Linked DNA regions of Homo sapiens. The protein of the gene in region 1 purifies or fractionates together with the protein of each later gene. This does not show direct contact. Each region holds a gene or a part of one and is shown in the gene's direction. Other genes may lie near its edges. The genes, in order: RSBN1L, KSR2 and MACROH2A2.

Region 1 (3,652 bases):
TTGTAAACTAAGTACTAAAGGACTTAAGAAGTACAGGAAGGATTCTACTACAAATGTTTAAGACAAAGGAATGGCAGTTTAGCATTCCTAAACTAAATTCCAGGAAAACTCGCCTGGGAAATTACACACCCATATTTTAGCCATGGCTGTACTTATCTGGGTTGGGCAAGCCCTTTAAACTTTCTGGGCTTCAGTTTCATCATCCATAAAATAACATGTTTAGACAATGTAGCCAAAGGCCCCTCTATTTAATTTATTTTTTTGAGACAGCCTCACTCTCTGCCCAGGCTGGAGTGTAGTGGTGTAATGTGGAGCCCTGACCTCCGTGGGCTTGGATGATCCTCCCACGTCAGCCTCCCAAGTACCTCGGATTACAGGCACATGCCATCATGCCCAGCTAACTTTTGTATTTTTTGTGGAAATGGGGTTTCACCATGTTGCTCAGGCTGGTCTTGAACTCTTGGACTCAAGTGATCCTCCTGTCTTGGCCTTCCAAAGTGCTGGGATTACAGGTGTGAGCCACTGTGCCCACCACCACAGGCCCCTTTAAATAGTTTGTAGCCAGATTCCTTTTTTTTTTTTTTAAAGCCTCTTGATTTTCAAAAAGTATTTCTTATTGTGAGGTGCTAGGGCTATCCCACTGAGAGAGGAATCTCTGAGCTGTGTGGTTAGGTTAATTATTTAATCAGTAACTCAAAGGTCAATGCTGCAAACCTACACTGAAATTCAGGGTCCAGGTAAGCTGTGGAATGTGACAAGATTTCTGATACCACATAATCTATAGGACATCTCTTCTTTTATTACTTCTGTTTGCTTGGTGTTTTTACCCTATATGTACATATATCTTTTTCTTCCCTTTCTCTTTAACCTTGTTCCATTCCTTTTTCTCTTTTCCTTTTAAACTTTTTGTTCCTTTTCTACTTCTCTCTAGTAGTTACATCATGGAATTAGGTTGCATTTATTATTGGACTATATTTAAAAATTACCAAATATTACTTAAATGGTTGCTTCAAGTTTAATTTTCAAAGCACATGAACTAAATGCATTATTTCTCCTTTCCTTTCCTTCCCCTTCCCCTTCCCTTTCCCCTTCCCTTCCCCTTCCCCTTCCCTTTCCCCTTCCCTTCCCCTTCCCCTTCCCTTTCCCTTTCCCTTCCTTTCTTTCGATGGGGTCCTGCTATGTTGCCCAGGCTAGCTTTGAAGTCCTGGGCTCAAGCAGTCCTCCTGCTTCAGCCTCCCAAAGTGCTGTGATTACAGACGTGAGCCACCCACACCCAACCTAAATGCATTGTTTCTAAAGAAATTTGACAAGCCTTTTTGAAAAGGGGGTGTGTGGTGAAATTTTTTTTTTTTTTAATTTTGTTCTCAACATTCCATGGACAGTGGCCCTCAGTTTCCTTCTTCCCTCTCTCTGTCTTTTTTTGTTTGTTTGTTTTTGGTTTCAGATGGAGTCTCGCTGTGTCATCCAGGCTGGAGGGCAGTGGTGCGATCTCGGCTCACTGCAACCTCTGCCTCTCAGGTTCAAGCAATTCTCATGCCTCAGCCTTTCGAGTAGCTGGGATTACAGACACACACTACCATGCTAGGCTAATTTTTTGTATCTTTAGTAGAGATGAGGTTTCTCCATGTTGCCCAGTCTGGTCTCAAACTCCTGAGCTCAGGTGATCTGCCTGCCTCAGCCTCCTGAAGTGTTGGGATTACAGGCCTGAGCCACCGTGCCCGGCCACCGTCTTCTCTTTTCTCTTCCCCTTCCCCTTCACCTCTGTCTCTCGCCTCGCCTCCCCTCCCCTCCCCTCCCCCCTTTTTCCCTCCCCCTTCCCCTCCTCTCCCCCCTCCCCCTTCTCCCTCCCCCTTCCCTTCCTCTGCCCCCTCCCCCCTTCTCCCTCCCCCCTTCTCCCTCCCCCCTCCCTCTCCTTTCATTCTTTGGAGTCTCGTTCTGTCACCAGGCTGGAGTGCAGTGGCGTGATTTCGGCTCACTGCAACCTCCGCCTCCGAGGTTCAAGCGATTCTCCTGCCTCAACCTCCTGAGTAGCTGGGACTACAGGTGCGCGCCACCATGCCCAGCTAATTTTTGTATTTTGTAGAGACGGGGTTTCACCGTGCTGGCCAGGACGGTCTCGATATCTTGATATCTTGACCTTGTGATCCGCCCGCCTCGGCCTCCCAAAGTGCTCGGATTACAGGCGTGAGCCACTGCGCGCCCAGCCTTGTTCTTTCATTTTAAAATACTTTAGTCTCTGGTTTAAGCCAACAACCTCTTCAAGAAACTGCTGAACAGAAATATGTTTTGATTTTGTTTTGTTTTGTTTTTAATTATCATTAATCAAAGAGGTATCCAGTTTTTAAACTTAAATTTAATTGTTCATTTTTATAGATTCTTATGAGAGCACTTGCTTATTTAGTCCGTTAACATCATATGATCTATATGGTAGAAGGAAGAATAACAAATGATGAATATAGTGAATCATACCTCTAGCAGGGTATAGGGACAGAACCATCCAAGCATAATTATTTTCTTGGTGTGTTTGAAACAGTTTTTTGAAGCAAAGTATATCAATATATAGGGATATATTCAATATTATGTATTTCAGATGCTTAAGTATAAAGCTGTGTATGAAAGTGTGTTTGTCAGGGGAACAATATTATTATTAACATACACTTGAAGATACATTTTGAAAATAATTGCAATCTGCATAATTATTTATCTCCAGTGTACACTGCCATGGGGGACGCTATCTAGTCTAAAATTACAGAGTCGAAAAGATAGTGATGATGGTCCCATCATGTGGGTTCGTCCAGGAGAACAAATGATCCCTGTGGCTGATATGCCAAAGTCACCTTTCAAAAGGAAAAGGTATGTTGTATACACATTTTTATTGGAGGGGATGAGTGTTTGTATGTTGGGGTGTGTATGTTAGTTGAAAATTGGAGGAAGGAGGAATGCAAAGTTTAGAGCATAATTGGAATATAAATTTAAAAATAGCGATACATGCTAATACAATTTGTTATAAAACCTAAAATGTAAATAAAGCATGAGAAATGTAGGCAAATGACAAGAAATTGTAATGATGGATGGAAAAAATGTCATAAGATATAAACTATTTTAGAATAAATGTAATATTCAGAACCTATACTAAGAAGACTAAAATGTTTTGTGGAGGATATAAAGTAAGATCAGAACAAATGGAAAGCCCTGCTGTGTTCTGGATTGGATAAAAATGATAGTTCTTTAAAATTTTCTGCATTTCAATTGGACTAACACTTCCAGTCCTGGATAAAATTATTTTAAAATTCATAAGGAAGTAAACTTTTCAGTGAAAGAGAAGATTAGTGAGAGGCAGCTTATGATACAGGATATTAAAAATTACTATAAAGTTCAAATAGATCATTGGAATAAGAGTCCAGAAATAGATCTAAGTATATTGGGAACTTAATATATGAGATAGGTGGGAAGAGGAAGATGTATTTAATGAATAATGCTGGCATATTTGGCTCTCATAAAAACAAAGGCAGAGCCCCTACCTCATACAAGAAGTAAATTAGAGAATTAAGCATCACAGATAAAACAGTTAAAATATTAGAATAAAATTGTTTAAGCCTGGAGGAGACCTTCCTAAGCAAGACCAAACAATGCAGTGGCAATAGTATTTGGG
Region 2 (3,652 bases), on another chromosome or scaffold:
TGGCGAATGCCACTTTGTGGTTGACCTTTCTTTCTCCTTCTTTTAGTTCTTGTGGTCTTTCAGACTCTTTCACCAGGACCCCCTCCAGCAAGTGGATTGACTCTGTGGAGTCAGCCACTTCCTGCAATCTGAGGGTCAGGATAGGGGAGGTCCCCCAAATGAGGATGGGGAAGGGGGAATCTACTGGGGAAATAGGAAAGGAGGGGTGGGGTATTCATTGTGATTCTTTTTTCTCACCTGTCTCAGCTCTTCCATGCCTTCAATAGCCCAGTTCTGTCTCCCTGCTGCACTTCAAAAACACATGCACATCCTCAAGTCTAAACCCTGCAACATACCTCTAATGCACACTGTACCCAACATCCATCACATGTCAAATGTCACATGCATTTGACAGTCCCCTCACACCTCTAATGCACACCCAATTATACTATCGGCATACAGCATCCCCCTCAACATCCTGTGTGTACACCCAACTCACATGCACACAAGACAACCCTGCACAAAGCACATCCCATAATACCTATGCAGTGCTCACACAAATTGTGACGCCCCGCCAGCATCTATACCCAACATGTTTGCTTACTAAGAACAGAACTGCAGCTCATGAGCTTATGAATGCATCACACACACACACACACACACACACACACACACACACACACACACACTTGTGTCTTCCAGCTCAATATGGTCTTTTTATTTTCATTCCACACATCCTAATTCCATGTGATTGGCAAGACCTACCTCAAACACTGGGAACTTTCAAATACACCCAGTAATTCTCTCATCTTGGAATTCCCACGACACTCCATTTATCCAATTCACACCTAACTTTTGGCCTTATTACTTTTAGCCTCCCTGCATAGTATCTACATACTGGCTTTAGTTCCTTCAGTAGGAACACAATATTCCTGAAGGTCAGAAGCCGTGCCAGTTTCAATTCTATATCCCTCCAAGGGCCTAACACTGTTCCTGGCACACACATCTATTAAATAGTCGCATGAATGCATGAATGAACAGACAAACAAGAACACTGAGATCCTTCCAAGAAATTCCAAATTTGTGTGAACTTCGGAGATCTGATTAATTCTTTCCTGGCAAACATATACAGCTCTGAGGACTTATCTACCCAGGGCATTTAGGCCAATTTATAAGAAAGCTGCTAGATAAGTTGAAACCAAAGCAATGAAGAAAAATGAGCCCTGAGCAGCCCGGAAAATCAACTTAAAACAAGGTCCTTGCGCACTGTGTTGTGTGTGTGTGTGTGTGTCTGTGTGTGTGTGTGTGTGTGTCTGTGTGTGTGTGTGTGTGTGTGTCTGTGTGTGTGTGTGTGTGTGTCGAGGTTATGGATTATTTCAGACACACCTGTTGAAATGAAATGTGAGATAAAGACTTGGTGGTAAAGACCTCCGATCTGGGGATTCTTCGTACATAGCTAAACTCAATATATAGACCTGCCTTTTCACCTAGGGATCACGTTTATTTTTCTTTCTTTACAGCTTGGAAGGAAATCCATTACTTCAAATTGAAGTGGAGCCAACGTCGGAGGTGAGAATCAGAGAGCAGTGAAGCGACATTTTCCAGGGACTGCCCAGAACTTGGCAAAGCCGACTGACGTTTTGGATGACGCAGAGGGCTTGGGGTCAGGTGGGGGCTGTGGTGGCCCTGACTGATGGATATTCTAACTCTGGGACAATTAGCAAGCAGTGGTCCCTCCCAGCACTGAGTCTAATGGGCCATTATATGGCATGCATCATGGAAAAGCCAGTTGTGTGGAAATTGTCAAGAGATTTGCATTCTTAGTGGAAAGATCAGCTCAGGGCCGGGTGAATACCAAGGGGGATGTGCCCCGCTGCCTTCAAAAGAATATGTGGGAAGAGGTGGGGGCCTCAGGGATGCTGGGCTTAGAAGTGTTGAGAATGCTCTGGGGCTTCTTCCCACCTGCCTAAGTGGCTGCAGAAATACATGAAATGCCCTGGCTGGAAACCATGGAGTCCTGGCCCCTCAGCTCTGCAACTGCTCTGGGTCTCATACTGAAAGGAATTGAGTCAGGGCTTCCAAGGAAAATCGTGTTCTTTTCTGGGACTATTTTGGTTGTTGAAAAATGATCCCGGGAGAAATCAATGTCCCCTGTATTGTTTCTCCTGAATGTGCCATCAGGGGCAGCTTGCCCAGGTATTTTGGGTCAGGAAGAGCTGTACCCAGTCAAGAAGCCACCTTCTCAGGCTGTTTCATCAGGTCCCAGGGTCTCTGGGAATCCCCGCTGGCCCTGGCCACCTGCTGCTCCCACAATTCTGCAGGAGAATCCAAGAGGCAATTCGCCCCCAAGCACCCCTAGATATCATGCTGATAAGGTGGGTCCCTACACCTTGAGCATTTAACTCTAGTGGTAGTTACGCCGAAGTACGCCTGAGTCGTGTGTGTGCATGATAAAAATGCAGATTCCTGGTCCTGGCCTGCGGATATTTTGATCCAATAGTGCTGGGTGGGGCCCAGGAATCTGCATTTTCTCGGGCCTCCCAGTCGGTGTTTAATACAGATGGTCAGGTCTGTACAAAGAACTTAACAGGCCTTCATCTAAAACCTCACACCGGCCCTGGGGCAGATTTTATTACCCCCACTTTACAATGAGGAAAGGCAGCCTCAGGGAAGTAAAGCAACTGGCTCAAGGTCATACAGAGGCCAGATTTCAGCTCTCTTTGTCTGATTGTTAAGCCCATTCTGTTAACCCCTCACTCTCATGTCTCCTACCCTCCCAGCTGCTGTAGGAGCCTCAGACAGCTAGCTTGTAGCTCTGACCTCTCCCAGTTTTTGAATCATCAATTCCAAATTCCCTGGGGGAAGCAAAAGATACTCCATGTTGGCAGTTGTCATGTGTTACATGCAGATGCACGATGTACCCATTGTTTTAGCCTGTCTAGCCTGTCAACTTTATCACATGCACGTAAACAGCCAAACCAAAAGACTATGGAAGAATAGGAAGGCCATCGGATATTCAAGTCCAGAGACCTGGATCTTAGTCCCTCTTCTGCCTGGCTGCATGACCTGGAGTGAGTCACTTCCCAGGGCAACATATGGGACTTTCGGTGCTAAAACCAGGAAGATTCCAGCAAACTAGAATGGGCGATCCCTATAACACTTCTCTCTGAGCCTCAGTATCCCCCCATTTAGCACAAGAGAGGTGGATGATCATGATCTCCCTTTCAGCACCTTCACTGTAGTATGATTCTAGACCAGATTCTAGAGCTGGGGAAACAGAGGGACGTATGTCTGCACAAGCTCCAAATGCATGTAGAGATGTGCCCAGACCTACGCATGTGCACGGGACCCAGCAGGACCATGAGGGAGGCTGGGGCAGTGGCAGACACAATTCTGACCTCTCTCCCACTCCGGCCACAGAATGAAGAGGTCCATGATGAGGCCGAAGAGTCAGAGGATGACTTCGAGGAGATGAACCTGTCCCTCCTCTCGGCCCGGAGCTTCCCACGCAAGGCCAGCCAGACCAGCATCTTCCTTCAGGAGTGGGACATCCCCTTTGAGCAGCTGGAGATCGGCGAGCTCATTGGAAAGGGCCGCTTTGGGCAAGTGTACCACGGCCGCTGGCATGGCGAGGTGGCCATCCGGCTGATTGACATTGAGAGGGACAACGAGG
Region 3 (3,652 bases), on another chromosome or scaffold:
AAAGACTCTGTCTCAAAAAAAAACTAAAAATAAAAAAATAAAAATAAAAGCCACTGTATTCATTTCCTGTGGCTACTGTAACAAATTACCACAAAGTTCGTGGCTTCAGACAACACAAATTTGTCTTCTTACAGTTCTGGAGGCCAGAAGTCCACAATGAGTTTTAAGAGTCTAAGATCCAGGTGTTGGCAGGGCTGGTTCCTTCTGGAGGCTCAGGGAAGGATCCCTTCCTTGCCTTTTCCAGCTTCTAAGCTGCAACATTCCTTGGCTCCTGGCTGCATCGTTCCAATCTCTGTCTCCTTCATCCCACGGCCTTCTCCTGCCTTTGACCTTCTTGCCTCCCTCTTATCAGGTCCCAGGCTCACCCAGACAGTCCAGGATCATCTCCCCATCTCAAGAGCCTTCACTTAATCACATCTGCAAAGTCCTTTTTGCCATGTACGGGAACACCCACAGGTTTCAGGGAGGAGGACGTGGATGTTTTGGGATGCCATTACTTTACCTGCCACAGCCACCAGAGAGGATCTGATGTGTCCCTTTAACTAGGAACCATTGTGAGGAGGTAGCCCAACCCAGGGACTACTTGGCAGACCATATGAAAATGGCGCATCAGAGCAGCATTAAACGCTTCTACCCAAAGCTTGTGCTAACTGTGCAAAGCAATACAGCCCAGCTCTTGCTCTCGTTAAACATAGTCCACATCAGGAGCACAGGATGCTGCCCAGCCAACGTCTCTATCACTGCCTTATCTCCAGATCTAACAGGTACCTGATGAGGTTAGGCTATAACCTAGGAAACCTTAGGAAATAACCCGCGGCATTTTCTCTCCTATGTCCCAGCCGCCGTCAGCCAATCCAGTGGACTCGCAGCCAAATTTGTCATCCACTGTCACATCCCTCAGTGGGGCTCCGACAAATGTGAAGAACAGCTTGAAGAGACCATCAAAAACTGCCTGTCAGCGGCGGAGGACAAGAAGCTAAAGTCCGTCGCGTTCCCGCCTTTCCCCAGCGGCAGGTAAGATGCAGTTCCCCTGAGTTGATTCCTCCGGCTTTTTCCCTGGAAATCAGCTGCTCCCCCACTTACATCTGATCTGGGTGTTGCCAAGGGCTGCCAGCACAGCCAAGTATGCTGACCAGATGACAGGGCAGGAAACCCGGTTTTCATCCTTCAGAAACCATGGGGAAGCGAGCCCACTGGCTCCTAGGCAGCAGGTCTTCCCCGGCTGGGGCCAGCCCCAGTGCCTCCTTGATGTTAAAGCCCCAGGAGGAAGGCTAGCCCAGGGGAGGAGCGGGAGGCAGAGGCCAGCTGGTGTGTTATTTTTTGAGAGCCTTCCAGGTTCAAAGTCCATATTCCCACCAGCTGTCCATGTCCAGGACACATGATCAGAAAACGCCAGGCTCGAAGGCCTTGCTACTCAAAGTGTGGTCCATAGGCAGCAGTGACCGATGTCAGAATGCAGAATCTCAGGCCCCCCATCTCCGACCTCTGGCTCCAGAATCCCCAGAGAATTCCGTTGCTGCTCTGGGAGACTGCAGAGCCAGGAGTTCGAGGCTTTGATGAATACACCCAGAGAAGTGAAAATCTGTCCCCGAGTGATTGCTGAAAAGGAGACTGGGCAATGACTGGATTGTCACAGATCCCAGCTGGGCATTGTTTCAGATACATAATGAGGATATCTGCTGTCACATAAAACATATCCTTTCCCTTCATGCCCCTAGCCAATCTATTGCTTTAATTTTGAACACCCTCTCACCTTGAGAGCTGTCCTTTATAATATAGCTATGGTTTATAGCTGTGTCCTGGGAAGCCCAAGAGGAAAATAATGAGACCTAGGTTCCTGCTGTAATCACACATCAACCTAGGCAAGCAGCATTGAGTCTCAGCATTCCAGGCCCAGAGATGCTGTGAGATGCATTCTTTCGTCGGTGGAACCACGGCAGTGCTGTTCTGTGCTGGAATACATGCGATTGGGAAGAATTCCTATTAACAGGCCCCTCCTGGACCTGCTCCAGGGGTCTCTGTGGCTGACCCCTAACGACCATTCTGGCTGTGTCCCTGGAAGCTGGTGCTGTGGCCCAGCCTGGTGGATGGCACTATCAGTAGCTCCCTGGAACCTGGGGCCTTTAACAAACTTTCATTAACCCCGCCATGCCCGGAGTCACAATGCTGAAATTACATGGGCCTGTGCCTATGAAATATTAAGTGCATAAAAAAGGACTTACGAAGACAGGTTTGGAGCATACATTTTTGCCCTTTACTAAGCAATTGGGTTAGTATATAAACCAGTTTGGAGGGAGCTAATAAAACTTCTGTTTGCTTGTTTGAAGACCAGGTATTTTTAATGCTGAATGGCTAGCATTTTTAAAGCCAAGCTTGACTTGGTCAGGTGACATAGAATCAAATATAGGGAGCTGGCACGGTGGCTCACGCCTGTAAATCCAAAAGCTTTAGGAGGCTGAGGCAGGAGGATCATTTGAGGCCAGGAGTTCGAGACCAGCCTGGGCAACATAACAAGACCCATCTCTACAAAAAATTTAAAAAAAAAAATTTTTTTATAGGCACACGCCTTTAGTCCCAGCTACTGAGGAGGCTGAGGCAGAAGACAGATAGCTTGAGCCCAGAGGTTTGAAGCTGCAGTGAGCTATGATCACACCACTGCACTCTAGCCTGAGTGATGGAGCAAGACTTTGCCTCTGAAAAAAAAACTAATTTAAAAAAAGTATAATAAAAAATAAAATACAGGGCACTCTTCACTTGGCCAGCCCTGTGACCTTGACTAAAATCATTGTGCTTGGCAGGGCACGGTGGCTCACACCTGTAATCCCAGCACTTTGGGAGGCCGAGGCAGGCGGATCACCTGAGGTCAGGAGTTCAAGACCAGCCTAGCCAACATGGTGAAACCCCGTCTCTACTAAAAATACAAAAATTAGCCAGGCATGATGGTGCGCACTTGTAGTCCCAGCTGCTTGGGATGCTGAGGCAGGAGAATCGCTTGAACCCGGGAGGTGGAGGTTGCAGTGAGCTGAGATCGCGCCACTGCACTCCAGCCTGGGCAACAGAGAGAGACTCCATCCCAAAACAAATAAATTAATTTAATCAAATTAAATCATTGTGCCTCTCCGAGTCAGTGTGACACCTATAAAGTGGGGGCAACATGCCCCACCTGCCACCCCCAGGCTGTCCCTTTGGCTAGGGTCAAAGGAGATCATGCATGGACTAGCCCTGCACACAGCAAGGCCCCACCCAGTAAAAACAAAGGCACTTCATGCTCCCATGGGTCCCAGGGACCAAAATGACATCGGCTCTTCTTTTGCTTTGGCACAGAAACTGCTTTCCCAAACAGACTGCGGCCCAGGTGACCCTCAAAGCCATCTCAGCCCACTTTGATGACTCGAGCGCGTCCTCGCTGAAGAACGTGTACTTCCTGCTCTTCGACAGCGAGAGCATCGGCATCTACGTGCAGGAGATGGCCAAGCTCGACGCCAAGTAGCCGCCGCACTTTCCAGCAGGGATCGGAGGACGACCCGAGTCCCAAGAGTGGGGTTTTGCTTTTTAAAAGGAGAGAGGAGGGGTGATGGCAGGGGAGTGGAGGGTGGCCGGGCAGGTCCTGCCGGCGCAGGGAGCCCTCTGCCCTTCACACTCTCCTCCAAAA

Evidence for each region.
Region 2: the proteins of RSBN1L (region 1) and KSR2 purify together in Homo sapiens (co-immunoprecipitation; one large-scale study listed by IntAct). This does not show direct contact.
Region 3: the proteins of RSBN1L (region 1) and MACROH2A2 purify together in Homo sapiens (co-immunoprecipitation; one large-scale study listed by IntAct). This does not show direct contact.

What each region holds. Positions count from the first base shown.
Region 1 is NC_000007.14:77,765,951-77,769,602, forward strand, and holds part of RSBN1L (lysine-specific demethylase RSBN1L), read left to right. Parts: intron 1-2,710; coding exon 2,711-2,853; intron 2,854-3,652. UniProt on the Homo sapiens protein: Lysine-specific demethylase that specifically demethylates methylated lysine residues of proteins.
Region 2 is NC_000012.12:117,524,967-117,528,618, reverse strand, and holds part of KSR2 (kinase suppressor of Ras 2), read left to right. Parts: exon of another isoform or gene 1-73; intron 74-1,499; coding exon 1,500-1,548; intron 1,549-2,912; coding exon of another isoform or gene 2,913-2,921; exon of another isoform or gene 2,922-3,045; intron 3,046-3,399; coding exon 3,400-3,652. UniProt on the Homo sapiens protein: Location-regulated scaffold connecting MEK to RAF. Has very low protein kinase activity and can phosphorylate MAP2K1 at several Ser and Thr residues with very low efficiency (in vitro).
Region 3 is NC_000010.11:70,108,194-70,111,845, forward strand, and holds part of MACROH2A2 (core histone macro-H2A.2), read left to right. Parts: intron 1-839; coding exon 840-1,014; intron 1,015-3,324; coding exon 3,325-3,490; 3' UTR 3,491-3,652. UniProt on the Homo sapiens protein: Variant histone H2A which replaces conventional H2A in a subset of nucleosomes where it represses transcription. Nucleosomes wrap and compact DNA into chromatin, limiting DNA accessibility to the cellular machineries which require DNA as a template.